Homo sapiens: one gene and its partners. The protein of the gene in region 1 purifies or fractionates together with the protein of each later gene. This does not show direct contact. Each region holds a gene or a part of one and is shown in the gene's direction. Other genes may lie near its edges. The genes, in order: NOL7, WDR75, IPO5 and WDR43.

Region 1 (7,393 bases):
GTCCTGCTTTTGCTTCTTATTCATAGTTTTTTTAAACAAAAGTCCATGATTTTTCTTCTTTTTTCTCCTTCCTCTTTCTCTTTTTTCTAACTACACCTCAGAAGCTAGTCAGAAAGTTCAACAGGTGGTTTGAGAGGCTCGTTGACTTAGCTGAGATCCTAGTGGTCAGATAGTGCATGGGTATTTTTTTCTCTTGTTCTCAGTACTACCTGTGAATGCTGCTGTAATGTTTTATGTGTGTGTGTGTATATATATATATATATATATATATATATACACACACACATACACACACACATATATATACACACACATATATACACAAAAAAGTATGTATTGTGTCTATATATAACATGCCAAACATACGTGTTATATAGATACACATAAAACATATATATGTATATAAAATACATATATAACACACATACATGTATATTTTATACTTACAATTTCAATGAGTTTGGCAGTACAGTCCCAAAATACACTTTACTTGCATAGGTTCTCAGGATTTGAAAAAAACAAACAGAATACACTTTGTAATCATGTCTCTTACACTTTGAAATAAAATTCTTCTTTATGGCACATAAATTCTAGACATTTGCTTCTCAAAATTCCCCCAGTCACAGAGCCCAGCCCATAGTGAAGTGTTATAACTAGAGTTGTTAGAAGCTAGTTGAAAGAAGTGGGCATGGAAATTCATAATACCATCTTTATGAGAATTTGGGTTTTACTTCGGCTATTACTTCAGAAATAAGTGCTTGCTGAAGTAGGGCATTCATTTTGCTAACCTGTAGTTCAAAACTGCTGTATTTGCTTCTTCTCTTTCAGGTTTCATTTCCAGGGACCCTGTGGAACGACTCTTCCTGAAGCCCTTGCCTGTCATGAAAATGAAACTGTTTCTTAAGTGTCCTGGGGAAGAAAGAAATTACAGTATATCTAAGAACTAGGCCACACGCAGAGGAGAAATGGTCTTATGGGTGGTGAGCTGAGTACTGAACAATCTAAAAATAGCCTCTGATTCCCTCGCTGGAATCCAACCTGTTGATAAGTGATGGGGGTTTAGAAGTAGCAAAGAGCACCCACATTCAAAAGTCACAGAACTGGAAAGTTAATTCATATTATTTGGTTTGAACTGAAACGTGAGGTATCTTTGATGTGTATGGTTGGTTATTGGGAGGGAAAAATTTTGTAAATTAGATTGTCTAAAAAAAATAGTTATTCTGATTATATTTTTGTTATCTGGGCAAAGTAGAAGTCAAGGGGTAAAAACCCTACTATTCTGATTTTTGCACAAGTTTTAGTGGAAAATAAAATCACACTCTACAGTAGGTAATTTATTGTATAAAGACATTACCCCACGATATGGCTTTATTAGGGACTTTTTTTTTTTTTTTTTGAGACAGAGTTTCACTCTTGTTGCCCAGGCTGGAGTGCAGTGGTGCGATCTCAGCTCACAGCAACCTCCGCCTCCCGGGTTCAAGAGATTCTCCTGCCTCAGCCTCATGAGTAGCTGGGATTACAGGTATGTACCACCACACCCAGCTAATTTTGTATTTTTAGTAGAGACGGGGTTTCTCCATGTTGGTCAGGCTGGTCTTAAACTCTCGACCTCAGGTGATCTGCCCGCCTCGGCCTCCCAAAGTGCTGAGATTACGGGCATGAGCCACCGCACCCGGCTTACTGGGGGCTTTTTAACCTTGTTTGGCTACATTACCTCAGTGAACAAGGGGAAGCTCACAACAGGAACTCACACAAAGAAGGAAGAGAACAGTACCAACAAGGTAGAACATCACGATGAGAAGAAAGAATGATGCAAATATGTGGACCCCCAGGATAAACACAGCTGCCCAAAATTTAGCTCTGGCCCCCTTAGATGGGGGAAGTCAACAGTGAAGTGTTTCTCAGCATCATAAAGGCAGAAGCTGTGGTTCCTGTGGGGCCTGCCAACCGTTCCCAGATGCTGAACTCTGCTGGGAGTTTTTTCCATGGGACTTTAAAAAATGATGCCCTTAGGTTGGGCCAGACCTCTGTTAACTTCAGTAGGGATGGCACCAGGTTCAAGAGGCCAAAGAAGAGACCTGGAGCTAGTGAAGGAAACATAGGGTTTATTTGGGGAACCTTACAGGGTGGTCCAGTGGCCGCGGGCTGGACAGAACTGCAACCACTTATAAAAAGCATGCAGTTTACATAGCACTTTCACTCAGCACCCTCCCCTCAGCAGCCTCCACGTGGCAACCCTCACTTCTTAAGTTATTGCTGTCAGATGCATCTGCCATACAGGGTCATTCTCAGGGGATGCTTAAGTTATTTCTGTCAGGTACATCTTCCATACACTTTACTACCTTGGAGTAAAGTAGTAAGAATACAGCTTTTTCCTTAACCTTTACCAGCTAACTCAGTGCTTAGGGGCCTTGGAATGCCTGCTGTCCAGCAGGTGTCACAGGCCTGACTGGGAGGCATGGCCATTATCAACAGTGTATGAAGGTCACATATGGCTCCCTGAAGTGATTACATACTTGGACCACATCACCTCAGCCCCTTGCAAAATTGCATTTAATGTTACACCCTTGGCTTTTGTAGAAACAGGCAACAAGACACTATCATATAAAACTTTGTACTGCATTGCAAGGCATAACCTTTAATAAATCCCAGTGGTCCTTTGTGTAGGGAACGGGGATGCTCATAGCCTATGGGGCGGCTGGAGAACCAGTCAGGGACCCTGAGGGCTCGATGTACACTTTACATGGGTGGGCCAAGGAGTTTACACTGAGGGCACTGGTAATACCTGTAATAGTCTTATAGTACTTATAAAGCAGTTTTGCACATAAAATACCATCATGCACTTATAAGTTTGTTCTTGGGCTGCTCCAAGTTAACTTTATTCATTTTCCTAGTGTTAGTGTCTCAGGGAGTCTGATTATATTTTTGATTTGTAATTTCTATCTGACTAAGGCCTAGAGATTTCAAAACTGTTCTTTGCAATTCCTCTCATACTGAACCTCTGGTTCAGCAGCTTTTTTTGTTGTTGTTGTTTTCAAGTTTTATCATTTTTGTTCCTATTTGGTTTTGTCGTTTTTAAATTGAGAATTGCTTCTAAAACAGAAGACATGAAAAGAGAATTAAAAATACAATATATGTGTAAGATAGAATTATTCAACTTAGCATTTATTAAACATCTACCAGATGATAGACATTAGAAATAAAATGACTAGCAAGACCTGGCCCTTCCCCTCAGGGGTTCACAGAATGGCTGGAGCAACTGTCATATAAGCTGTTATGAAGTGCAGAAACTACACAGACATTTGTGCGGGTTCAGACCAGCGCAATTAGAGATGGGCAGAGTGGGATGGGGTAGGGGTAAGGTGCTTGAAATTTGCCTGGGTGGGAATTTTTGAAGTATAAAAAGGACTTCTACCTGGGGGGCTGCGGCAGTAGAGGGAAGAGCACGGTCGGTACAAATGCATGGCAGGTGTGAAACAGTTTGATTTGTTCAAAGAATGATGAATCACTTAGTGTTGTATAATGGATGGGAGGAGAGAAACACAGCGATCACAAAGGGCCATGTTTGCCAAGAAATAAAATATACTTGGAAAAAAAGTACGTATGTGTATATACCACAAAACTCGGGTGCATTCTCTAGGGACCGGCGAAGCCATTCTTTCAGGAGATATGCTCAGCATTTGCCACGGGCCAGCTGCTGTTCCAGGTCGTGGGTTAGGGCCCGGCACCAGGAAGGGCGCCCCTCCCACAGGGCCGACATCCTAACCGGCGTCGCTGCGGCCGCGGAGCTGGGAAGGCCGAGGGCGCCGGGCACGTCTGTGCAGATTTCTTTAGAGTCCAGGTCTGTCGCCCGCGTCTTCGTCGGTGGCAGCAGGGCTGACTGGCCACGGCGGCCATCTGCTAGAGCGCATTTCTTCCCATGAAACGCCACCTCCTCCGAAGTGCGGAGCGAACGCAGCCAAATCTACACAAAGACTGACAAGCTGGATCCACTCGACGGAACCCAGGGCCAAAAAACGGCGGCGAGCAGCGCCTCGGGCCCGCGATTACCGGTTTTCTGAGCACCGGACAGCGTGAGCCGTGCCAGCCCTGTCTCGCCATCCCAGCCGAGGAGGGCAGCGCGATGGCTCTTCCCTGCCTTGAAATCAACCCCATTGCCAGCCGCTTTCGCCGGCAGAGCATTTTCCGTGGGGTCCATCCGGCTCCAAGGCGGCCTGCGCTGGCCACGTGGAAAGAAACACGCCCACTGCCTACAGGCCACGCCCTTCCTCCCTTCGCGCATGCGCCCCACCCGTCCTGAGGACCTCCGAACCTGCAGGGGGCGATGAAAGTAGGCTTGCGCTCCGCTTGTAGCTGCTTCCGGGTCAGAGGTCAGACGGTCTAGCGCTGCGTGGGCCATGGTGCAGCTCCGACCGCGAGCGTCTCGCGCCCCGGCGTCGGCGGAGGCGATGGTGGACGAGGGCCAGCTGGCCTCGGAGGAGGAGGAGGCGGAGCACGGGCTGTTGCTCGGGCAGCCCAGCAGCGGCGCGGCCGCCGAGCCCCTGGAGGAAGACGAGGAAGGGGACGATGAGTTTGACGATGAGGCCCCGGAGGAGCTGACTTTCGCCAGCGCCCAGGCGGAAGCGAGAGAAGAGGAGCGGCGAGTGCGGGAGACCGTGCGCAGGTTCGGAGCCCGCTGCCCGGCGGGGAGAACCGCCCTTTCTCGTCCCGCTTGTCCTTCCCTTTGCTGACTTATCACCCTTCCTCCCAGGGATAAAACGCTCCTGAAGGAGAAGAGGAAGCGACGCGAGGAGCTGTTCATCGAACAGAAGGTTAGAGGCTAGGGAGGAGGTGTCTTATTAAAACAACTCGGCTCAGGGAGAATTCCTATGGTGGATGTAATTTGGGTTGGCAGGATATTGGAGTGGGGAAACAGTCACCAAGATTGCCTCTGACAGTGGTGGAAAGATGCTCGGGCCGGGCGCGGCAGTACTTTAGTTGGACGAGGTGGGCGGAGCCCGGGATGTCGAGGCTGCCTGGAGCCGAGATCACACCACTGCGCTCCAGCCTGGGCGACAGAGCGAGACCCTGTCTCAAAAAAAAAAAGTTCGTCTCCTTTAGTGTCCACCAACTGAAAATAAGAGGTTGCTGTGAGAATTAAATGAGGTGATTTGTAAACTGTAAGGGCTGTACAGACTTAGTGTATGGTTGCTTTGCTGTCTGATACTCGACACAGAGAGCTGGCTCCAGGCAGACATTACTTAACTGCTTTCAATTTATAACAGTGACCTGAGGGTTAGAATACCGTGGGCACCCTTTCTAGTTTTCATCAAGTCTTTCAGAGAATGTGGAGTTTTGTGGACCCGGTCTTCCCATAGCTTAGAGGTATGGGGGCAGTTTCCAGCCTAATTCATTTCTTTGCCTAGATGTAGGGCATTCTTAAAAGCGGTAACTTCAGAAGCAACTCCGGACATACTATGTACATGACTTTCTATTAATTTTAAACGTTTTCATTCCAAAAGAAAAGAAAACTCCTTCCAGACACTATTTTGGAGAAGTTAACCACAGCTTCACAGACTAAGTAAGTAATGGATCTTTTTATATTACTTGCTTATATACACCCATCTTTGAATTATATACTGGTACATTTATTTGAATCCATATAACTGAAGGAATTGTAGAACCCAAATTCAAAAGCTACCTTGGTATATGAATTTGATGGGAAAGACGGAGGTAACGTTCTACTTCTTATTTTACCATTTATTTTTGTTCATTCCCATAGCTAGCTTTTGAATTCCTGATCCCATTGTGTTCATTCAGTACATTTTGTTGACTGCCTGTCATTGTACTAGGGCATAGTGGGTGGTGGTGAATAAAAAGTGTTTTGAATCATTTAGTGGGGTAGCAGGCACTTATCCACAGGCTCTGAAAACTTGATTTGTCCCATACTTGCCTTACCTGCCACCAACCTGTCCTTCCTGTTCCCCACTTCATTTAGCATCTTTGGTGTTTTATGGTTTAAAGCGAAAAGCTATAGTCGTCTTTGGGAATTGATCAAACCCTACTAAATTTAGCCTTCTAAATTTTTTTTTTTCTATCCTCTTTTTCTCCCCTTAAGGCTTTAAATTCAGAAATTCAGCCCCCTTTTGCTTAGGCCAGTGACTCTCAAGTTTTCAGTAAAAAAACTTTACCAAAGAGTTACTCAGATCCTGAATACATTAAACGTAAGAGCAAATCTATTTGGTGGCAAATTCCCTTTCATCTTTTAAAACCAAGCTCAAGTGTCACCTTTACCTTCTCATTTGCCCCCCCCCACCTCCCATCACTTCCGCTTTTGTGTGGCCTTTCTCCTGTGCAAATGCTTCTGTATTGTATTCTGTCCATTTACATTTCTCTCTCCATTGGGCCACAGCCCCCTTGAGGCTGTTCCCTGTCTCCTGTGCCTAAACTATTAAATTAATCCTTTGTGATTTCTCCAAATGAAATGAGGCAGACCTACTCCCATTCACTTCATATTTCAAATACTTTATAACTTGTTCTGAACAAGTGTTTCACTTGAACTCCATTGCCCACAGCATTTTGCTGCTTTGAAAGCCTGCTAATAGGCTCTCAGATTTTAACTGTGAAGATCTTCCAATGCTTGAGAGTTGGTGGCAGTGTACTAGGGAGTGACTATTGCTTTCCAAACTGATGAGAGCTCCTGAGTAGAAATTGAGGGTGTTGGTAATGAAAGGGGGTGTCTTACTTGTAAAGGCAAATGAAATAATATAACATGTTTTGAGTAATCTTTACTGCCATTGCAGTCAGTGGTTTTGTTTTTTTTCCTTAGCATCAAGAAATCGCCAGGAAAGGTGAAAGAAGGTATGACTATTCTAATTTAACTAACTTCTCATGTAAGTGTCAAGTGCACTTGCAGATGTTTCCAGTCAAATATGAATGGCCCTTAGAAAGCCAGCATGGGCCTGGCCAAGGTTAGCTGGGGCCTATTCCCTGTATTTCATACAAATAAAAACTGCATCCACATTGGTGTGTAGTGGATGCTTAAAGTGAACTCCAGTAAATTTCCTGATTTATTTTTACGTGAATGCTAATTAGAAAATGTAACTCTATTTTTTAGTTAATTTGCAAAAGAAAAATGAAGACTGTGAAAAAGGAAATGACTCCAAGAAAGTTAAAGTACAAAAAGTACAGTCTGTCAGGTAATGAGTCTTTTGTTTCATTTGGGATGTAAAGGAGACCTTTAAGAGAGTTAAAGTATTGGCTAACATGGGAAAATATTTTATTTTATTTTATTTTATTTTTATTTTTTTATTTTTTTGAGACGGAGTCTCGCTCTGTCGCCCAGGCCGGACTGCGGACTGCAGTGGCGCAATCTCGGCTCACTGCAAGCTCCGCTTCCCGGGTTCACGCCATT
Region 2 (7,777 bases), on another chromosome or scaffold:
GGGACATGTATGGAGCTGGAAGCCATTATCCTCAGCAAACTAACACTGAAACAAAAAAAACAAACACCACATGTTCTCACTTATAAGTGGGAGGTGGTGATGAGAATACATAAACTCATAGAGGGGAACAACACACACTGGGGCCTGTCGCAGGGGTGGCCGAGTGGAGGGAGAGCATCAGGAAGAATAGCTAATTTGATGCTAGGCTTAGTGCCTAGGTCATGGGTTGATCTGTTCAGCAAACCACCATGGCACACATTTACCTATATAACAAACCTGCACATCCTGCGCATGTACCCTGGAACTTAAAATAAAAGTTGATTTAAAAAAAAAGAGAGAGAGAAAGTCTGAACGAGATAGTCTTTGAAGCAGACACCACTGTGTTCCAAGATCAGCGCTACTGATTATAAGCAGAATGATCTAGGGTAAGTTAGCATAGTAAGTCTTAGGTTTTTCACCTATAGAACAGAAATATCACCTCCAGGGCTGTTGAGATAATTAGAAATATATGAAGCATCAAGCACGTGGCTGGCCCGTGGGAGGCACCAACTGAGAGCCATTTGTATATAGAGCTGCCATTAGATTATTTTTTAAAGTAGTACTTCTCAAACTTAAATATGCATAGGAATCACCTGCAGATCTTGTTAGAATGCAGATTCTGATCCCACATATCTGGGTAGGGCATGAGTTTCTGCATTTCTAACAAGCTCCCAGGTGACACTGCTGTTGCTGGTCCACGGACCACACTTTGTGCAACAACATTTCAAACCATTCTAAAATTTCGCTTTAGCCACTGGGTACAAGAGATCATACAATTTTAATCTATGGGTTTAATCATAGCCAAAACAGAAAAGGTGTAATTATAACCATGAGAACTGTTAACCTTAAATGGAACATAACCCGCTTGTGATAATCATCACTTAACTGCCTGAGGTTCCTAGGGCAGAGGTATACAAGAGAGAAAGTGCAGAATGAAAAATATATGGGATAGATAAGGATTTCAGCATCATAGGAAACCTAAGAAGAGATAAAAATTGCACCATCATTAGGGAATGAGGAAACATAGCAGAGCCCAAGGGCCTATCACTAAGTAATTCATGACATTAATACAAAATCGATGTAATCTGCTTGAAGATGTCTCCTATGTACATTATGCAGGGTAGTGGTGTGAAATACTGTACATGGTGTTTATATCTGTTGAAGGGAACAGAAACATACATGAAGATACTAAGCAGTAAAAATGTGACTAAATCCTTCTCACTAATGGGAAAGCTTTTAAAAATTTTATTAAATAAAAAATAAATAAAAATAAAAATTTTAAAAGAGAATGCTCAAAACTCAACAAGAAGATAACCAATAAAGCAATGCGTGAAGGACTTGATGACACTTCACCAAAGAGGATATAAAATGATGCTCAGCATTAGTCATTAGGGAAGTGAAAATTAAAACCACAATGAAATACCACTACAAACTTATTATGATGGCTAAAATAAAAAAAAAAAACCTTGACAATACCAAGTCCTGACAAGGGTGTAAAGTAACTAAAACTTTCATACATTACTTATGGAAATGCAAAAATAGTACAGTAACTCTGGGAAAAAAAGAGTTTGGCAATTTCTTAAATAAACATACACTTATGATTTGAGCAATCTCATTTGCTGGTATTTATCCTAGAAAAATAAAAGCTTATGTTCACACATAAACCTACATATGAATGTTTAGAGAAGTATTATGCATAATTTCTAAAACCTGGGGGTAAAACACATTCAACAAATAAACTGTGAAATAGCCATACAATGGAATACCACTCAGCAATATAAAGCACTGATGCACATAACATAAATGCAATATGCTAACTGAAAGAAGCTAGACTGAAAAGGTTACATACTATATGATACCATTTATACATGGCTTTCTGGAAAAGGCAAAACTAGGGATGGAGAACATTAGTGGTTGCCAGGGGATAGGTCTTGGGGAGGGGAAGGAGAAATACTGGGGAATTCTTTGAGGTGCTGGAATTCTTCTGTATCCTATTTGTGATGGTGGATACGATAATTTGTGCATCATAGATATCAAAGAAAGCAGATTTTATTGTATGTAAATTTTTAAAATTAGCCTAATCGTTTCACTTTTTAACACAAAGGCTACACTGTCTTCAATTTCAGAGTAAAACCCAAAGCTGTTACAATGATCTAGGAGACCCTATGAACTGGCCTCTTATTACCTCTCTGACCTCACCTTTTACTATACCCCCTTGATGATTATTCTCCAGCCACACTGGCCTCTTGACTTATCTTGAACATGGAAAGGAATACTCTTTCCTCTGGCTGACTCTTTCACCAAACAGCTCCATGCTTATTCACACTCTCAACCTTTTCAGGTTATTTCAAATGTTACCTTCTCAGTAAGGCTTTCCCTGAAAACCCATAATAAAGGTGATCAAACCCTTATAATCACTTTCTTTTCTACTTTGAGTTTCCCCTTGGCACATAAATACATCAAAAGTATAATAAGTTTTTGTTTCTTCCCATGATAAGGTAAGGTCCAGTAACATACAGATTTTGTTAACTATTTTTCTCACTCCAGTATTCCCAGAGCCTGAAAGAATGTCTGGCATATACTAGGCACTTAGTAAATATTTCCTGGATGGAAGATGCCAAATAAGTGTTTCTGGAAAATCCTTTTCCTTCTGTATATAGGCTATGCTCTTTCTTGCTATTCCCTTATTTCTTCTAACTGAAAGGAACATGAACTGTGAGCATAAGGACAAAACCAATATGGTTAAGGACAATAACACAAAGAACAAAGTAGAGAAAGCACAGGTCCCTGGTGGCATGAATGATCCACTGCACTAGCCCTATTCTGCCTACCTCAGCCTTCTTGTTACATGATAAAGACAACGCACTATTAATTAAACAGCTGTAGGTGGGATTGGTTCCTTAAAAATTATGTAAAAAGAAATCAAAATACAAATGACTTATCTTTCTGGGCACTTCAGTAAATTAAAACTCTGTGTAAAATAATCCTCCTATACATTTATCAATCCAGCTAGTTTTTGTCCATATCAGGATTTCTGATTCTTTTCTGAAAAATCTAAAGTTACCATACAGTAACATACAACTAAAGTCACACTAATTTGAGTGAAAATATTTATTTTGTTTCTTGGCTCAGGCCCTAAGGAAAAGCCTGTATCAGGTTACAAAGTACCCAACAAAGTCTTTAAAAGATTTATTGTGCATACATCAAGAGACTAAACAAAAAGAGGTTAAGGCTGCAGAATCAAAAGTGATATTTTACACTCCATCCACTGTGACAAAGGGTATCACAGTCATGAAAGAGAAAGCTGGTTACAGCTTGAGATAAACCAAAATTATTAAATATCTCCCTTTCTAGTTCTGGCTCCCCAAATAATAAAGTTTTGAGCACTTTAATAAGCTAGACTCCTCAGTAAAAAGTAAATTTATCCCTGATTTTTACAGTGGTGCTGTCCCAGGATATGTCTTGACCTTTGTGAATATTGTATTTCTCCACCATAAATAAACTTATAGGTATAATCATGTGTGGCTTAATGATGGGGATATGTTCTAAGAAATGCATTTTAGGTGATTTCATCATTGTGTGAATATCACAGAGTGTACCTACACAAACCTAGATGGTACAGCCTACTACACACCTAGGCTGTACGTTATAGCTGATTGCTCCTAGGCTACAAATCTGAACAACATGTTACTGTACTCAATATTGCAGGCAATTGTAACAGAATAGTATTTGTGTATTTAAACACATAAAAGGTACAGTAAAAACACAGTATTATAATCTTACGGAATCACCATGTTATATGCATTGATTGAAAGATCCTTATGTGACATGTGACTATATTTGAGACCTTGGTAATTTTGTGGTAAATCCACAAATCAAGAAGCGAAATCAAAATAGGCAACATAATATACAGGGTCCAAGAATATGATACGTGTAAGTTTACAAAGGAAAACTGGAGATAAACTGGCAAAAATAAACATGTTGAGATTTTAGGGGTTCCTAACCCACAGATTCTATTCACTAATGGGAAAAGGTAAAACTCAGGAAACCAGAGACCAGCGCCCTGAAACCTGGCGGGACTGGCCGAATGTCAGATTAGCCCGAGCAGCTACACTGAACGCTGCGGAAGATGCACCAGAATCCCGGAGTAGGAGCCAGATTTCCAAAGGAAGAAAGCTAGGCCCTAGGACTGTGGAGATTCTGTAGTAACCTAAGCGATGTTCACAAGAACAGAAGAACGGCTAATGAGAGGAACAAAAAGCTGTACAAGGAAGAGAAAGCTACCTTTCCACCCAATAACTCAACGCTGCGACCGAGAAAACCAGGGACGCGAGAGGCTCGCGTCATCCTGCAGCGCCGACACCACAGACACTAGAAAGCGACGCCTCCGGTGGGACGACTGGAGGTCACGTGGTACACTATACGCCACCTTTCCCTTCTGGCGGAAAAAGCCATAGAGTCAGGTTGACAAGGCCTGAGAGAAATATGTCTGTATTAAATAATTGTGTATAGGTATATAATAAAAACTGATTGTCTCTAAATCTCTGTTTTGCTTTCACCTTTTCTTACAAGTGTCTTAGTTTGACATTGCCCACACAAAAGGTGCCTGCACGGAAGCGGAGTCCTACCACCGAGTCTCAGGCCTAGAAGGGCCCGGGGGTGGGTTCTGTGGGCTGGGAACAGCCTTATTACCCGGCTCAACGAAGGAAGTTCAGGGCGGGACCAGAGATTGGCCATTCCGCTACTGCGCAAAGATGGTGGAGGAGGAGAACATCCGCGTGGTTCGTTGTGGCGGCAGCGAGTTGAACTTTAGGAGAGCTGTGTTCTCTGCAGATTCTAAGTATGAGGGGCACCGCGCTTTGTCGGCTGAGGGGCGGGGCGTGAGTTTCTCGAGGGTCGGGGAGAAGGAATTGTCAGTCGCGTTCGGACTCGCCCGCCTGGCGGATATCGGCTTTGGGTAGAGCACGCGCCTGTGGGGGATCCCCAGGGTACCTGGGAGGTCCCGTTACCACTGCAGATTGGGTTGCGTCCCCCGATTCCTGGACAGTTTACCTGCAGGTAGATAAAGGCCCTGGAGCCGGTCTCCGTGTCGAGGATCTGGAAGGTGTTCGGGCGGCTGGAAAATGGTCCAGGGGTGGATGTGTATGCCACTACCTTTGCAGTACCTACTCTTTCGTACAGAATCATGTTTTGGAGTGACTAAAACCTAAAACTATTCCGCTTTTTCTACCCACTCCTCACTCCTGAAGCATAGTGCATGAAGCATAGTGCAGTCTTTTCGGAACTTTACATGAAAACAGATGTTAGATTCTTTATGAGATAAAAATACGCTAAGACTTGGTCTCTTTTCTCAGTGTAGCTGGAAACCAAACCACTCCCTGGCTTCAAAATCCACTTCTTACATTATGAAACCTTTGTAAGTTTCTTAATCTTTGCCTCAGTTGCCATCATCTGTAAAGGGGGACAATATTTAGTTCATCTCACGTGGTTATTGGGAGGATTAAATGCCTCAATATGTTAAAACTACAGACAACAATGCCCGGCACATAATGGCTCAATGTATGTAGCTGTAATCATTATTACTGTATTGTCAGGTTTTCAAATAACTTTAGGTAGGGTGGCACTTAATAAAATCAAAAAACCCTTTCTGCCTTAGAAGAGTAGAGATAGTATTTTATGAAAGTTTGTAGCCTCCACAATATTCTTTTTTTTTTTTTTTTTTTTTTTTTTGATGCAGAATCTCACTCTGTCACCCAGGCTGGAGTGCAGTGGCTCAATCTAGGCTCATTGCAACCTCCGCCTCCCTGGTTCAAGCAATTCTGGTGCCTCGGCCTCCTGAGTAGCAAGTATTATAAGCGCGGGCCACCACGCCCGCTAATTTTTGTATTTTTAGTAGAGAGAGGGTTTCGCCATGTTGGCCAGGCTGCCCTGGAACTCCTGGCCTCAAGTGATCTGCCCACCTGAACCTCCCAAAGTGCAGCGATTACAGTGAGCAACTGTGCCCGGCCCACCCCCACAATATTCTGCATATGAGTGTACGACAGGTAGTTGTTGAAGGTAATGCAAGCATGACTGAAAGAGCTTTTATAAATTGCCTTAGAAGCCAAAAAAAAATGAGTCCTGTGGCTTTGTTGACATTGATCTTATGAATCAAAGGAAGAAACAGGCTTTAAGAGGCTGTCACACTGTGACGCTTCGGACTCATATCCATGTAACCAGTACTGTTCTTATACCTTATTCATTATAATGAGGTCCATTGTGTGTTTGATTTGCTAAGCCCAACAATTCATTTTTTAAGTACTTGTCAACTATATATTATGTATAACATGCTGCAGTGACAAAAACTAAGATAATTTTAATATTGATCCTGCCTTCGAGGAGCTTACAGTCTAGTGAGGAAAAGGAATACTCAGTAACAGATTTTTCTTACTGTGGTCCTGTAGGAAGGAGCTCATAAGAAGAGATTACTTCCCAAACTAAGAAGGACGGAGAAGATTGCTGAGCAAATGACATTTGTGCTAGGCCTAGATGATATTTTAAGTGGGGAATATGGACAGAAGACATTTCAGGTGGGGAGGACAGTGTAAGCAAGAAAGACAGAAGTGATTTCTGTTGAACAGGCTGGTACAGTTAGCTAGTAAGAATGGTATATATTAAGGGAGGTAGTGGGAAATGAGGTTGGAAAGGACACGTGCAGCCAGTTGTTGGTTGTTGTTTGGACCAAAGAGAATGGTTTTTTAATTCTTTAAGGGGACGGCGGTAATCAGTTGTAATTTGATTGTGTTTCTTCAATAATGTTAACCTGAAAACTGTAAAACTCTATGATACATGTTGGTGAGTGGAGAAATGAGAGCTGGGTAGGCTGATGTACATAAAGTACAGTGATGGCATAGAAGAGGGAGTTACATAGTCAGTTTTACCTTCAGTAGTGGTTCTTGCAGCAATGGCAAGAGTTTGCCTCACCAGTAATACTGGGGGATGGAATGCCAGGCAAACAAGCTTGAAATCTGGGGGCCTTGAAAACTGGGGGGATTGAGCCTTCTATGTAAAGTCAGTGTAATTGCAGCATAGGGTATAAGAGATGGCAGGAAAAGACTCTGGAAGAATAGAGACCAGGGGTTAGAAGACCAGTGCAGGCATCCAAGCAAGAAATCACTTTTGCCCAAACTAAGGTAATATTGAACATGGAGAAAAGAGACAGGGTTTTAGAGTGATTTCACAGTCAGTGTCAATGGGGAGATAGAGTTCAGTTCGGGGTTATTAACTCTAAGGTACCTGTAAAACAACCAGGTGGATATAGCTAGTAGTAGGTAGAAATTCAGGACTGAAGTTTGGAGAACTTGGTCAAGATTTAGAGATTTTTTTTTTGTCATCTATATATAAGCTAATAATTAAAACCATTTATCTAACAAATGACAGGATTTTAATGAACTCAGCAAAGATTTGAATATTATCTACAAGGTACCACAAGGGATTGGCTGCCTTATACAAAGAGGAATAATTTTGTATTTTACCTCAAGGTGCTTATCAAGAAAGCCAAAATCATAAAAAGACAGACTTGTGGAATTTTGGCGGCTTCCTCTTGAAACTAGAACAAAAACTCTGTTCTAGGTACTTGAGTAGGTTGTTCTGAGGGGCATGTGGGTATACATGTAAGTTCCTGGTGTTCCCATATTAGATATTACTGACTCTCAGTCCAGTTCTGTTTGCATCCCATTCTGCGGCATCCCACAGTTAT
Region 3 (7,023 bases), on another chromosome or scaffold:
GGCAGCAGGGTTCCTTCGTGCGATCTTCTGGGGAGAGGGGGTTAGAAGATAAAGGAAGGGGCCAAAGAGGGAATTTTCTTTATGACGTAGTAAGACAGCACAAAATATAATCATAAGTAGAGGAAATCAGTGAAGAAAAAAATGAGGATGAAGTGTAGGCATTAAAGTTGATGAACACAAAAATTTTGATTCCGTATCTGTACTCAAGAATTAGCTGTGCTTTGAGATGAGACTAACATGAGTTAGAGGTGTTGTGTTAATAGAAGAGAGAAAAAAAAAATCTCACATAAATAGTTCAACATAGATTCTTTTTATAGAAATTTCCTCCAAAACCTACAGTCTCTGCTTCTGGAGAGGTGGTCTCATTCTGCTGTTTCAGAAAAGCATTCAAGAACTTGAAGGGAGTAGTAATTGTAAATTTAAATACTTCTTCCAGTTTTCCTTTGAGGTAATAATTTGTGTCTTCCTTCTAGCTGATTCAGAAAGGCACCAAGTTAGTTTTGGAACAAGTTGTGACATCCATTGCATCAGTTGCCGATACTGCAGAAGAAAAATTTGTCCCCTACTATGATTTATTTATGCCATCACTGAAGCACATCGTTGAGAATGCGGTTCAAAAAGAACTGAGACTTCTGAGAGGAAAAACTATTGAATGCATTAGCCTCATTGGTCTGGCTGTTGGGAAGGAAAAAGTAAGTAATTTTTTTTTTTTTTTTTTTTTTTTTTTTTTTTTTTTGAGACAGAGTCTCGCTCTGTCACCCAGGCTGGAGTGCAGTGGCACGATCTCGGCTCACTGCAAACTCTGCCTCCCAGGTTCATGCCATTCTCCTGCCTCAGCCTCCCGAGTAGCTGGGACTACAGACGCCCGCCACCACGCCCGGCTAATTTTTTGTATTTTTAGTAGAGACAAGGTTTCACTGTGTTAGCCAGGATGGTCTCAATCTCCTGACCTCGTGATCCGCCCGCCTCGGCCTCCCAGAGTGCTGGGATTACAGGCGTGAGCCACTGTGCCCGGCCTGTAATTTCTATTATGTTAAATTTACTGTACCTAACTTGGCTGTGGAGGCATTGAGAGTACTAGAGGGATTTTTTCCTTCTGAAAAATGGTTTTCTGGATGCTTGTTTTTTTCCTTACTCCTTTCACATTGCTCCTGTTTTATATACAAATTCTTGCCTTCATCTTTTCATTGTTTGTTTGTTTGGTTTGGTGTTTTTTTTTTTTTTTTTGAGACCAAGTCTCACTCTATCACCCAGGCTGGAGTGCAGTGGCATGATCCTGGCTCACTGCAACCTCTGCCTCCTGGGTTCAAGCGATTCTCCTGCGTCAGCCTCCCAGGTAGCTGAGATTACAGGCACCTGCCACCACTCCCAGCTGATTTTTGTATTTTTTTTTTTTAGTAGAGATGGGGTTTCACTGTGTTGGCCAGGCTAGCCCTGATCTCCTGACCTCAAGCAGTCTGCTCACAGGTGTGAGCCACCGCGCCCAGCCCGTCTTTTCATTGTTAATATTAAGGTTTCTTTTTAGCTCAGCTGTGCTCCTGATGCCTCCTCCTTTCCCCACCACACACAGTGCATCTCGTGGGAGGTGTGTGGAAGTCAGTATCCATGTTCGTTCCCTTTAAATATGTGCTTGGAAACATGTCACTTGCTTTCCTATTAATCTAAAATGCATCAAGTGTTCTAAGAGAGAAATCTATGCATATAGATCTTCAGAAAATAATTACCAAGGACCATTGGCCAGTGTGTTTCTCAGCCAACATCTCAGAATTGTTCAAGCTAATGCAAAAGAAGTTTCTCTGTCATTGAATCCTCATGTTCTGACCCTGAGAATTATCAACAGAGAAGCTCTGTCTTGCCTTCTTCAAAACCAGCATCAGTATTAATTTATATTTGGAACTGGTTTCTGTGAGACGCTGACCACTAAAACATTGGTATGTTTTTTACCAATAAAATATTTGTATGTCCCATACTCTATATATCTGGCTTTCAATGTCTCTTTAAAACGCTGCCTGTTTATACAATGGAGATTACCAGAACTGCAAAGAGTTAAGTGAAAATCATAGACAAAATTTTATGCAGTGAATTCTATAAACAATCTAAAATTTTCTTTCTGAATTTGAATTCAGTTTTACTGCTTGAAATGCGTAAGCCATAGACTAACACCTGATGCCATTAGAAGTACCTTTATACTGTAGTTCCCTGCCCTTCAGTGGAAAATATATTTTTCTAGAAAGTGAACTAAATCTGTCACAATATAGATGAGAATTTTTCAATATGATAGTTTATCTATGAAAGTTATGACCTATGTGGGCAATGTAGTCGATTTTTTGGCAAAGCTTTGCTAATTACACAAGAAACAAAATTCGGTATCAACAAGTGTGTCTCTACATATTTTCCTCTAGTTCATGCAGGATGCATCAGATGTGATGCAGCTTTTGTTAAAGACCCAGACAGACTTCAATGATATGGAAGATGATGATCCTCAGGTAAGTGGTCTTAATGCATTTGCTTTGATCCGCTAATGAGTTGTGGACAGCACATGGTTCAATATATTTAAAACAAAAGGAGTGATAGGTTTCTTGACATACTATCAACCCCTGCTAGCAGAGACATTCTTCACTGATTTTCCTTCTGTTTCTCAAGCTACTTTTTCTCAGTCTGTTGTAGGTTGCTCTTGCTTTCTGTGACTCTCACTCAAGTTTTGGTGTTTGTGGGTTCTATCCAAGGCTCTCTTCTCACTCCTGTGGAGCAGTGTCACTCACAGACATGGCTTCCGGTTTCCTCTGTGTGCTTGCAACTTTCAGATCTTCAGAATTGAAGATTCATTTATCCAACATGTAATAGACATCTCCATTTGGGTGTCTCCTAGCCCTTTGAAGGCTGCATGATCTCCCTCCCCTGGCAGAAAATACAGAACCCAAGAATCTCAGGACACACTGCTTGCCTCTCCGCCAACGAACAGACAAAGGCATTTCATTAGGAGGAACCCCTGCCTCTCGACACACACGCACATACACACATAGGTATACATACCCAGCTAACGCTTGCTCACAGTTCTCATCCTTTACAAGATTTTCCTGATCTGCTCAGTCTCAATGGTGGGCAGTTCCAACACTGTTATAGTAACATCATAAATGTTTGTCATATCTTGATGGTATTCCCAATGCCTAACATATAACAAGGCACTCAATAAATAATTGTTGAATTAAATTTTGACTTTACATTGCCACACTGTAATAGTTTAAATAGGAAAACATACCATTTTGCAAAGAAAGCATGTTTTGTTGTTGTTTGCTTTCTTTGCAAAATGATATGCAAATATACATGTATGTTTTGTATGTACAGAGATAACAGGCAGGAGGGATACTTAGCAGACTGCTGACAGTAGGGAGACTGAGGGGACTGTAAGCTGTAGGGAGGGGTGGTAAGGACGAGGCGTGTTGCTCACCTTTGTATCAGCCAGCATATAGTTTAATGCCTGGCATGTGAGAAACACCCAGTACCTATCTGAAGAGCGGGTGGACTTTTACATATAAAATCATTAAGAGGTGGGGCATGTGTCCATGCATGCTCAATAGATAAATAGGTAGGTGGATGACAGATATCAGGGGATAAGAATCACTTTCTAGGTTGCAGGGGTGGTGAATGGAACCAGATTCTCTAGGTAATTTGCAGATGATAAAGTCTGTGTAAACACAGTAATAGGAGAAGAGGTGTTTTAAATATACTCAGCCACTTATGAGAAAATTATAACAGCTAAGAGAAAAGGATGTTTTGTTTCTTGGGTTTTAATAAATGTTTAATGAATGGAGTGGCAGGCAATAGGGATACAGAGTCAGATAAAATACATTTCTGTCTTCAAAAAATTTGTAACTGGGAGTTGATGAAGTGTTTGGTTTTGTTTAGGTGATTAGTTTCATTTAGATGATTCAGATGCTAAGAAAGAAAACCATTATCACTTACTGAAAGTAGAAAGAAATACCCAAGGTTCTGGTCTTTGTGTTTTGCCTCACCTGCTGTCCATATCCCAGTGTAGTGAGTTCACAGGGATTTCATTATTGATTCTGAACCTTTTAAGTACATAACCTTTAGAAATGCTCTTACTGCTTAAAGTACTGTGAACATATCAATAAAACATTGTTTCTATGAAATAAGGAAATGGCTTTCTTTATCACGTTTACCCATTGTTTTTTAATCTATTTTAATTTTAAAATTTTTCCCCAGATCTCTTACATGATCTCAGCATGGGCCAGAATGTGCAAAATCCTTGGAAAAGAATTTCAGCAATACCTTCCAGTGGTTATGGGGCCTTTAATGAAGACGGCTTCAATTAAGCCCGAAGTAGCCCTTTTAGATAGTAGGTGTCTTTAGAAGGAGCTATCGGTTATAATAGTTCTCTCTTTGTTATTATTTTTCATATGCATTTGTTTTCTTCTCCGTTAATAGCCCAAGACATGGAGAATATGAGTGATGATGATGGTTGGGAATTTGTGAACCTTGGAGATCAGCAAAGCTTTGGTATTAAAACTGCAGGACTAGAAGAAAAATCAACTGCTTGCCAGATGTTGGTAAGAGAGCACTGTTTTTACTAAACTTTTATTTTACATCTTATATACATTTCATATGAGTGCTTTTAATAGCTGCTAAAGAAATTACTTTGGAGAGCCAGTAATATGTTCCTTAAAAAGTAAAGTTTTCTTTCCATTTTAAAGAAATCGTATGGATAAACCTTTCATTATCAGTGCTGTTTTAAATAGCAAAAAACAACAAATAGCCCAAATTCCTGTTAGTGGGAAGATGAATTACTGTGCCTTGGAGTAATATACAGCCATTACAAAAAGTTTATAAGCTACATGAGGGAAGGATTTTTGTTGGTTTTGTTCTTAGTCTATAGTAGGTGGCCATGGAATGTTTTTTAAACAAATGAACAGAAGTGTGTTCATGCTATTTAATGTGAAACAAAACTTGTATGATTTCAATTGTGTAAAAAAACAGATATGGCAGGAAAATCAAAATGTTCGGTTATTATCCCTTATGGTGTTTGTGGTGTGCATATGCATGTTTAGTTCCTAGTTTTCTTTTTGTTTTCTTTATGAGCATGCGTTTTAAAGTGAAGGATAATCCTTTTTTTTTTTTTTTTTTGAGGTGGAGTCTCTCTTTTTCACCCAGGCTGGAGTGCAGTGGCACGATCTCGACTCACTGCAACCTCCACCTCTGGCGTTCAGTTGATTCTCCTGCCTCAGCCTCCCGAGTAGCTGGGATTACAGGCGCCTGCCACCACAGCTGGCTACTTTTTGTATTTTTAGTAGAGATGAGGTTTCACCATTTTGGCCAGGCTGGTTTCCAACTCCTGACCTCAGGTGATCCGCCTGCCATGACCTGGGATTACAGGCATGAGCCACTGCACCTGGCCAATACTTACTTTTAAAGTTAGATTTTAGAAATTAATGTATTTCTTATTGTCATCTTCAATACTTAGTATCTATAAATTATAAACACTTTGGATTTTTGTGGGTTTTTTCTCTCAACTGGAAAGCAAATACAAATAATAACATCTTTAAACAGAATTAATCTTTAGATGTAGTAGAAGAGAATGAAACAATTGGGTTTTTGGGGTTTTTTTTGTTTGTTTGTTTGTTTGTTTTGCTTTTTGAAACAGAGTCTTACTCTGTCGCTCAGGCTGGAGTACAGTGGCTTGATCTCAGCTCACTGCAGCCTCCGTCTCCTGGGTTCAAGTGATTCTCCTGCCTTAACCTCCCGAGTAGCTAGGATTACAGGTGCACGCCACCATGCCTGGCTAATTTTTTGTATCTTTAGTAGAGACGGGTTTTCACCATGTTGGCCAGGCTGGTCTTGAACTCCTGACCTCGTGATCCGTCTAACTCTGTCAGCCAGGCTGGAGTATAGTGGTGCCATCCCGGCTCACTGCCACCTCCACCTCCTGGGTTCAAGCGATTCTCCTGCCTCAGCCTCCCAAGTACCTGGCATTACAGGTGCCCGCCACCATGCCTGGCTAATTTTTGTATTTTTAGTAGAGACGGGGTTTCACTGTGTTGGCCAGGCTGGTCTCGAACTCCTGACCTCGTGATCTACCAGCCTCAGCCTCCCAAAGTGCTGGGATTACAAGCATGAGCCACCGTGCCCAGCCATGATTTTTTAAAAATACAAAATAACAGAAGCGTTTTCTACAGATTTACAAAGTAAATGCTTCAATTAACTGATGGTTTCAGGGTTTTTTGTATCTTTTAGAATGATTTTTCCTCAATTAAGTGATACATTTTGTTTGATGTATTGCTGAAACTTGCTGAATGGAATACGAATGATTCCAGCCTTTGAAGGGACAATATATACGACAATAATTTCCTTTTTTTTTTTCTTTTTGTCACTCACCAATACTACAATCATTTCATGACCCTTCTTTTAAGACTCTTTTTAGTTGGAAGACTAATTTGACAGTTCTACATGCAACTTTAAATGTAGTTCTAGTCAAAATACAACCTCCTGTGGTCCTTATGATTTTGCTGTTTGTTAATATTAATGCTTGAAGACTAACATGAATCTTTATTTCCTCCCAATACTTTGGTTACAGGTTTGCTATGCTAAGGAGTTAAAGGAAGGCTTTGTGGAGTACACCGAACAGGTTGTCAAACTGATGGTCCCTTTACTGAAATTTTATTTCCACGATGATATCCTACAACTTCTGAATACAAAACATGTCTAGATTTAGTAAACTTGTAGTTTCTTGGAGTATTAGACAGTGTTGACTGAAGTAGACTTCACCATGATTGTTTGTATTTGCACTAAGTGTACTCTTAGGTGATAAACTCGGTTCTCTGCATGTGCCTTTGTTTCCACTTGTGCCAAAACATGAAAAAGAAAACGTGACCTATCCTATGTTTGTCAGCTTTCTGTGGCCCACTTAAGGATTTAAGGATAATTAGCAAATGATTACAATTATATATAGTTGCTACTTTCCCCAAATATCTTTTGGTAAACGTTAAGAAAATAAGACTTTTATTTTAA
Region 4 (7,129 bases), on another chromosome or scaffold:
GACTAAATTCTTTTCTACCTATACTAACACGCAACATGATCTTTCCAGTCCCGTGGTTTCATATAGCAGCTGTATGCTAATGCATCCCAAATTCATATCTCTAACTGTGATGTTTTCTCCAAATCCCAACTCATATATCTAACTGCTTATTGAACAACCCTACTTGAATGTATAGTAGGTATCTCAAACTTAACTGTCCAAAACTGATTACATTCTAGTCAGGGAAGTAGATAATAAACACATTTAAAAATGAATCTCTAGGCTGGGTGCAGTGGCTCACGCCTGTAATCCTAGCACTTTGGGAGGCTGAGGCAGGCGGATCACCGGAGGTCAGGAGTTCAAGACCAGCCTGGCCAACACGGTGAAACCCCGTCTCTACTAAAATGCAAAAATTAGCTGGGCATGATGGCGGGTGCCTGTAATCCCAGCTACTCGGGAGAGTGAGACGGTAGAATCACTTGAACCCAGGAGACGGCGGTTGCAGTGAGCAGAGATCGTGCCACTGCACTCCAGCCTGGGTTGCTGAGTGAGACTCCATCTAAGAAAAAGAAAAAAAAAAATCTTTATTTCAGCTAGTGCAAACTGCTACAAGGAGAAACAAAGCCAGAGAAGGGAAATGAGAGCTTAAGTATTCGAAGGAATTAGGCAAAGCCTCACTCTGGCTCTGCAAGGTCAGAAGGAAGGGCAGTCAGTGTGCAGAGAACAGCAAGTGCAAAGATTGATCTCCATTCCACCCAAAACTCTTTCCCCAATTTAGCTAATGGTATCACTATTCACTTATTTGCCCAGGCATCAGAGTCACTCTTCATTCATCTGTTTTCCTCACCCTTCACAGTCAATTCATTTAGCAATTCCTGTTGGCTCTAACTTCAGATTATATCTGGAATCTGATCATTTTTCGCTACCTTCATTGCTTTCATCAGAGTCCTACCAATCATTGTCCTTGTCCCGACTACTACTCCACAGCCTTCTACCTTGTCTTTCTGCTTTTATTCTTGCCTACAGACTTCATCTAGCAGCCAGGATGTCTTTCAATAATATAAATCAGATCATGTTATTTCATTGCTCAAAACTGCAGGGGGCCGGATGTGGTGGCTCACACCTGTAATCCCAGCACTTTGGGAGGCCAAGGCAGGAGGATTCCTTGAGTGCAGGAGTTCAAGATCAGCCTGGGCAACACAGAAAGACCCCACCTCTTAAAAAAAAACATTAAAATTCTCCAGTGGCTTATTTCTATCATACTTATAATAAAATCCAAATACTTCACTCTGATTTACAAGGTACTAAATAGTCTGGCTCCCTCTGAACTCAGCTGCTACCTTTGATTTTTCTAGTTGTCACTATCTACCCTAAGTTTCTCCAAAGCTTTTTCTTTCCACTAGTCAAGGTCTTTGTTGCCTCAGTCTTTGCACTTGCTATTCTCCCCAGGTTGACTGCTCTTCCTTCTGATATTGCATGGTCTGAGTGAGGCTGTCCCTAATTCCTTTCAATACTTAAACTCTTTTCCCTCCTCCGGCTTTATTTCTCTTTATAGCAGCTTGCACTAGCTGAAATAGAGTTTTCTTTGTTTGTTTATTATGTGCTTCCCTGATTAGAATGTCAGCTTCATGAAAGCAGGAATCTTGTCTCTCATGATCACTGGTAGATTCCTGGTACCCTAAAACAGTGCCTGGCACATAGCAGGCATTCAGTTTGTTTGAGTAACTGAATGAATCCAAGTGCCAAATTAGATGTCTCAAATTTAGCATTCCCAGACTAAAGACACTATCATCTTCTTGCACAAAAATCTTCCAGGATTCACTATCCTAAGTGAATTGGGTCACCAACCAGTCTCTCCCTGTAAAAGCTCAATGAGTAATCCTTGGCCGTTTCTCTATCTCTCCCTTGGCCACTTGAAATCCGGCTCATTGTACATAATAAACACTCTTGAAACTTCCTTGCATCGCTATTTCTCCAAGCCACTCACCATCATCTCCACCTGGGGTTTCGAGCCTCCAACCTAGCTTCCTTCTAATACATTCATTACACTGTCTCCATGTAATCTTTCTAAAATGCAAATATTGGTCAGGCACAGTGGTTCACGCCTATAATCCCAGAACTTTGGGAAGCTGAGGCGGGCAGATTACTTAAGGTCAGGAGTTCCAGACAAGCCTGGCCAACATGGTGAAACCCCATCTCTAATAAAAATACAAAAACTAGCCAGGCGTGGTGGCACACGCCTGTAATCCCAGCTACTTGGGAGGCTGAGGCAGGAGAATCACTTGAACCGGAAGGTGGAGGTTGCAGTGAGCTGAGATTGTGCCACTGCACTCCAGTCTGGGCAGAGTGAGACTCTGTCTCAAAACACAAAAACAAACAAGAAAACAATAAAATGCAAATCTTACCATGCTGCTCCGTAGCTGTAAAAGCTTGAGCCTTCCCATGGCCATGAGAGTGGTTTTTATCTTTCCTGGCAGGCAATAGGCTCTGTGTGGGCTGAACAGTACCTAGCATTCCTTGAATTAGAATGCATTGATTTGGTGAATATTTAGGAGAAATATAAAAATCTACCCTTTATTTTTTGGATACAGGATCTCACTATGTCACCCAGGGTAGAGTGCAGTGGAGCAGTCATAGCTCACTGTAGCCTCGACCTCGTGGGCTCAAGCCATCCTCCTCCCTCAGCCTCCAGACTATGGGCGTGTGCCTAAAAATGTCTATTTGATGTAGCAACATGAGATAAATCTGGAGAAACAGGAGGGAATAGTTGTTCCGATCATTACTTTTACATTATTATAACTGAATACATTGTTATTTTGTAAATGATTACAGCCTGGAATTGAATAGGGGGAAACGGAAGCAGTTGTTACAATCATTATCAATTTGAAAGTGAAGACTTCTTTTCTCTCTCTTTTTTTTTGAGACAGTCTCGCTCTGTCACCTAGACTGGAGTGCAGTGGCGTGGCGATTTCGGCTCACTGCAACCTCCACCTCCCGGGTTCAAGGAGTCTCCTGCCTCAGTCTCCCGAGTAGCTGGGACTACAGGCACACACCACCACACCCGGCTAATTTTAGTATTTTTAGTAGAGACAAGGTTTCGCCATTTTGCCTAGCTTGGTCTCGAACTCTGACCTCGGGCGATCTGCCCGCCTCGGCCTCCCAAAGTGGGATTATAGGTGTAAGCCACCGCGCTCGGCTGAAGATTTCCTTCAAACCTTTCGTTCTACCTTATCATTTTCTTTAAAGTTTTAAAAAATTGTTATTTATTTATTATTTATTTTTTTAAGACGGAGTTTCACTCTTGTTGCCCGGAGTATAATGGCGCGATCTCGGCTCACAGCAACCTCCATCTCCCGAGTTCAAGCGATTCTCCTGCCTCAGCCTCTCGAGTAGCTGGGATTACAGGCGTGCGCCACACGCCTGGCTATTTTTTTTTTTTTTTTTTTTTTTTTTTTTTTTTTGAGACGAGTCTCGCTCTGTCGCCCAGGCTGGAGTGCAGGGGCGCGATCTCGGCTCACTGCAATCTCCGCCTCCCGGGTTCAACCAATTCTCTGCCTCAGCCTCCCGAGTGGCTGGGATTACATACAGGTGCCAACCACCAAGCCCGGCTAATTTTTTTGTATTTTTAGTAGAGACGAGGTTTCATCATCTTGGCCAGGCTGGTCTTGAACTCCTGACCTTATGATCCACCCGCCTCGGCCTCCCAAAGTGCTAGGATTACAGGCGTGAGCCACCGCGCCCAGCCCACGGCTAATTTTTTTATTTTTAGTAGAGACGGGGGTTTCTACATGTTGGTCAGGCTGGTCTCGAACTCCGACCTCAGGGGATCCGCCCACTTCGGCCTCCCAAAGTGCTGTGATTACAGGCGTGAGCCACCGCGCCCGGCCCCCCCCCTTTTTTTTTTTTTTTAAAGGAACAGGACTTGATCTTAATTCTACAATTACTTTCTCCCATACTCCCACTCCCGCCCAGAACAAGATAGCGACAGGCCCTAGCGGGCCACCGTCCACAGGGCGGATCCGCCAGAAGCTCTCCTGCGACGCGAAGATCCACTCCCTGAGCCCCCGGCGCTCCCTCCGCCTCACTTCCTCCTCCAGGCTCCGCCCCGCGCCGGTGCGCCTGCGCACGGACGAACACGTGGCTGCAGCGGGGCCAGAGCAGCAATGGCGGCGGGCGGCGGCGGTAGCTGCGACCCCCTGGCCCCTGCTGGGGTCCCTTGCGCCTTCTCCCCGCACAGCCAGGCCTACTTCGCTTTGGCCTCTACCGACGGTCACTTACGAGTATGGGAGACGGCCAACAACCGGCTGCACCAGGAGTACGTGCCTTCCGCGCACCTCAGTGGTACCTGCACCTGTCTGGCCTGGGCGCCAGCGCGGCTGCAGGCCAAGGTAAAGCGAGCGGGACTGCGCGGGGCGGGCGCCTTCCCGGGCTCGGCTTCGGGCCTCCGGGCCGGGTGGCGCGTGGTCCGGCATCGCGCGTGGCTCTCAGCGGCCCGGGCCAGAAGGCTTGGAGGCGGCGTCGGCGCGTTCAGGGCCCAAGCCGCCAGCCCCGCGTGCGGCCTGCCGCGAGGGCAGTGAGGGAGGGCGCAGCTCGACCCGGCCGGCCTCGTATCCGAGCCCTGCCGGCTGGCCCAATGAGGCCTGGGCCCCACTGTTGACGGGCAGCCATGTTCGCCAAGTCCCCTGGTCCCCCTGGGGCGGCTTCCTTCTGCCGGGCCTTGGCTCATCAGAGTTCTGGTTTTTGACAGAGCCCCATCTTGGGACTATCTAACTTTCCTCTGTCTGTGATCCGGCTCATCAGTTTTGCACTGGGCAGTTGGTATGGACTAGTCTGTACTTGCTTCCGGACCTTCCCCCTCCTGCCCCCCCTTTGGGTGCCGGCTCACCACGTGTTCTCGTCCCCGTCCAGGTTGTGGGACTCTCAACTCTTAACTTTTGCCTTTCCCAGGCACCTCTACATTCTCAGCTTTTTGAACTCACTGCTTTTTGATTTTAACATCTGCTCGCCCCTCCCGCCCCGCTTTCAAGCCGATCACACTGCTCCCCACCCACCCCAATCTGAAGTCTGTATTAGGATGTGGAGGTTAAGTGAAGTAGTAGCTTGATTTAGTGAATGTTTTATGAGTGCAGATGAAATTACCCTTAGATGGAAAACTGCCGAGTTAGGCAGAGCTTTTCATTGTTAGGGACCCGTGTCAGGTAAATGCCTTTCACTGTTGAGTCACTCAGCTACATCTCTCTAACTCAGCATGCACGTGGTTATTGCGTTTACAGAGTAGCCAAACCGAATCACTGCAAAGTGATTTGGAAACATCAGGTATCCTGAGGTGTGTGATGTGAGCTGTTTCAATGTGGAGAACTGTAAAAGCTATTTAGGATCTTACTCTCTCTGACGACCTGGGAAGCCTGCTAAATTTTTGGGTTGGGAAAAGGGATACATATAAGTTGCTATACTTTGGGCATGTTTAGATATTTTTCAAATTTTAAGCTACATTTTCATAGTTTATCCTGTTGATTCATAAAATAAACCTATCAGGGCTTATAAGTCAAACATAAAACTAAAAAAAAAATCAGTTTTTATTGTTAAAATTACAGCGCTCTGCTTATCTTTTATTTTCAAAGTTTTCTGTGGTTGTATTTTAACAGTCCTGTAAAGTGATAGTAATACTAATGCTGAGAGAAATACGGAGCAGTGGTTAGGTAGGTGCGTGGACCCAAGCTGGCTATATTGTCTATATTTGATTCTAGCCTCTGCTTCATAGTGGTAATTGCCCCTCTGGTTCCTCATTTATGAAATGAGGATAATAATATCTTCTTCATAGAGTGGTTGTGAAGGTTAATATATTTAATAATGCAGAGAACACTTAGAATAGTTCTTGACAGGTAAGTGCTTTAAGTGTTAAGTATTATTAATATCTGATATTTGTGTGGTTAGTCCTGAAGTGTTGATAAGGAACTTTCTGCCTTGTTTCGGGGAAAGAAACAGAAACTCTGGGAAACTAAGCAACTTGAATAAAGTAAAAAATGGAACCAGGATTAGAACTCAGGTCCTTAAGAGCTCGGTTCTTGGTTATCTGCAACAGATAGTTAATATTAGGTTGGAAAAAATGTCACCCACTTTGCTTTTCTGTTGAGTTTCAGTTGCATTGTATGCCCAAGAGAAATTTCCTAATCTCATATTAAAAGTCATAGTTTTGGATTATGTGCAACACTATGGTAAACTAGAAAAATAACTGGATTTGGTTTCATAGCCCAGACTCAAAACTTACTTTGTCATATTGAGCAAGTTGTTTTAATTTTGAGGACCTCATTGACAAACGAGAGTTGAGCTACATTAAACAAAATTTTTTTCTAGGTTTCAGCATCGTTTTATCTGCACTGTCTCCTTTTAACCACATGACTATGGAATCCCCTGAAATTAATTGCATTTTAAAAAAACTGATTGAAAATCAGAGCTAAGAAAGGTAAATGACTTGACTCAAGCCTTAATAACCAATAAAGGAGTGTGGCCTCTAGAGTCATGGTGCCCCGAACTCCTGGTCAAGTGCCCCGATTTTGTTACTCTCAATCTTGAGTCACAGAACTGAGAGAGCTGGAAGGAATGTAGAGACATTCCCTACTTTGAGGGTGTGTCCTCTTGGAGCATCAGTTTGACTTATAAACTAAGGAGAGACAGTTTTCTTGTATTAAAACAAACTTGCACATATATTATGGTATAAAATTAAAAAGTCATATGTACTGTAACAAGATATCTTAGAAAAAAAAGGCACATGTTAAGGTGCTCTCATCTTATTAAACCCTTCCTTTTATTTTACATCTTTGAGGCTTAGTGTATGAGGCATGAAAAGGATGTTGCTCTGAACCCACTTTCCAGCATTTTGTTAAGGTCCTGCTATATGATGACATATAGTACTCTCAAATTTGAAATAGAGGTATCATCACCCACCTTTTAGGATCCTCAGGATCAAATTAGGCAATGTATGTGACTGGTGTAGTATGGCCTAGTATGTAATAAGTGGCTTAATAAATGTTATTATTGAGTGAATCTGGACTCGTTTTACCATTTAATTTGGCATTTAATATGGTAAATCAATTTGTAAGAAAAGTATTCTATGTTTGGTTTAGTAATTGGCAGTTTGCTACGCAAGGAC

Evidence for each region.
Region 2: the proteins of NOL7 (region 1) and WDR75 purify together in Homo sapiens (co-immunoprecipitation; 3 studies listed by BioGRID and IntAct, with this or other methods). This does not show direct contact.
Region 3: the proteins of NOL7 (region 1) and IPO5 purify together in Homo sapiens (affinity purification with mass spectrometry; 3 studies listed by BioGRID and IntAct, with this or other methods). This does not show direct contact.
Region 4: the proteins of NOL7 (region 1) and WDR43 purify together in Homo sapiens (co-immunoprecipitation; 3 studies listed by BioGRID and IntAct, with this or other methods). This does not show direct contact.

Annotation. Positions count from the first base shown.
Region 1 is NC_000006.12:13,610,962-13,618,354, forward strand, and holds the start of NOL7 (U3 small nucleolar RNA-associated protein NOL7), read left to right. Parts: upstream 1-4,373; 5' UTR 4,374-4,397; coding exon 4,398-4,663; intron 4,664-4,750; coding exon 4,751-4,811; intron 4,812-5,501; coding exon 5,502-5,560; intron 5,561-6,808; coding exon 6,809-6,840; intron 6,841-7,096; coding exon 7,097-7,178; intron 7,179-7,393. Other genes in the region: SIRT5 (NAD-dependent protein deacylase sirtuin-5, mitochondrial), read left to right, coding at 829-904.
Region 2 is NC_000002.12:189,436,700-189,444,476, forward strand, and holds the start of WDR75 (WD repeat-containing protein 75), read left to right. Parts: upstream 1-4,774; 5' UTR 4,775-4,793; coding exon 4,794-4,879; intron 4,880-7,777. UniProt on the Homo sapiens protein: Ribosome biogenesis factor. Part of the small subunit (SSU) processome, first precursor of the small eukaryotic ribosomal subunit.
Region 3 is NC_000013.11:98,005,657-98,012,679, forward strand, and holds part of IPO5 (importin-5), read left to right. Parts: intron 1-473; coding exon 474-692; intron 693-2,402; coding exon 2,403-2,486; intron 2,487-4,224; coding exon 4,225-4,357; intron 4,358-4,446; coding exon 4,447-4,568; intron 4,569-6,589; coding exon 6,590-6,686; intron 6,687-7,023. UniProt on the Homo sapiens protein: Functions in nuclear protein import as nuclear transport receptor. Serves as receptor for nuclear localization signals (NLS) in cargo substrates.
Region 4 is NC_000002.12:28,890,557-28,897,685, forward strand, and holds the start of WDR43 (WD repeat-containing protein 43), read left to right. Parts: upstream 1-4,110; 5' UTR 4,111-4,142; coding exon 4,143-4,367; intron 4,368-7,129. UniProt on the Homo sapiens protein: Ribosome biogenesis factor that coordinates hyperactive transcription and ribogenesis. Part of the small subunit (SSU) processome, first precursor of the small eukaryotic ribosomal subunit.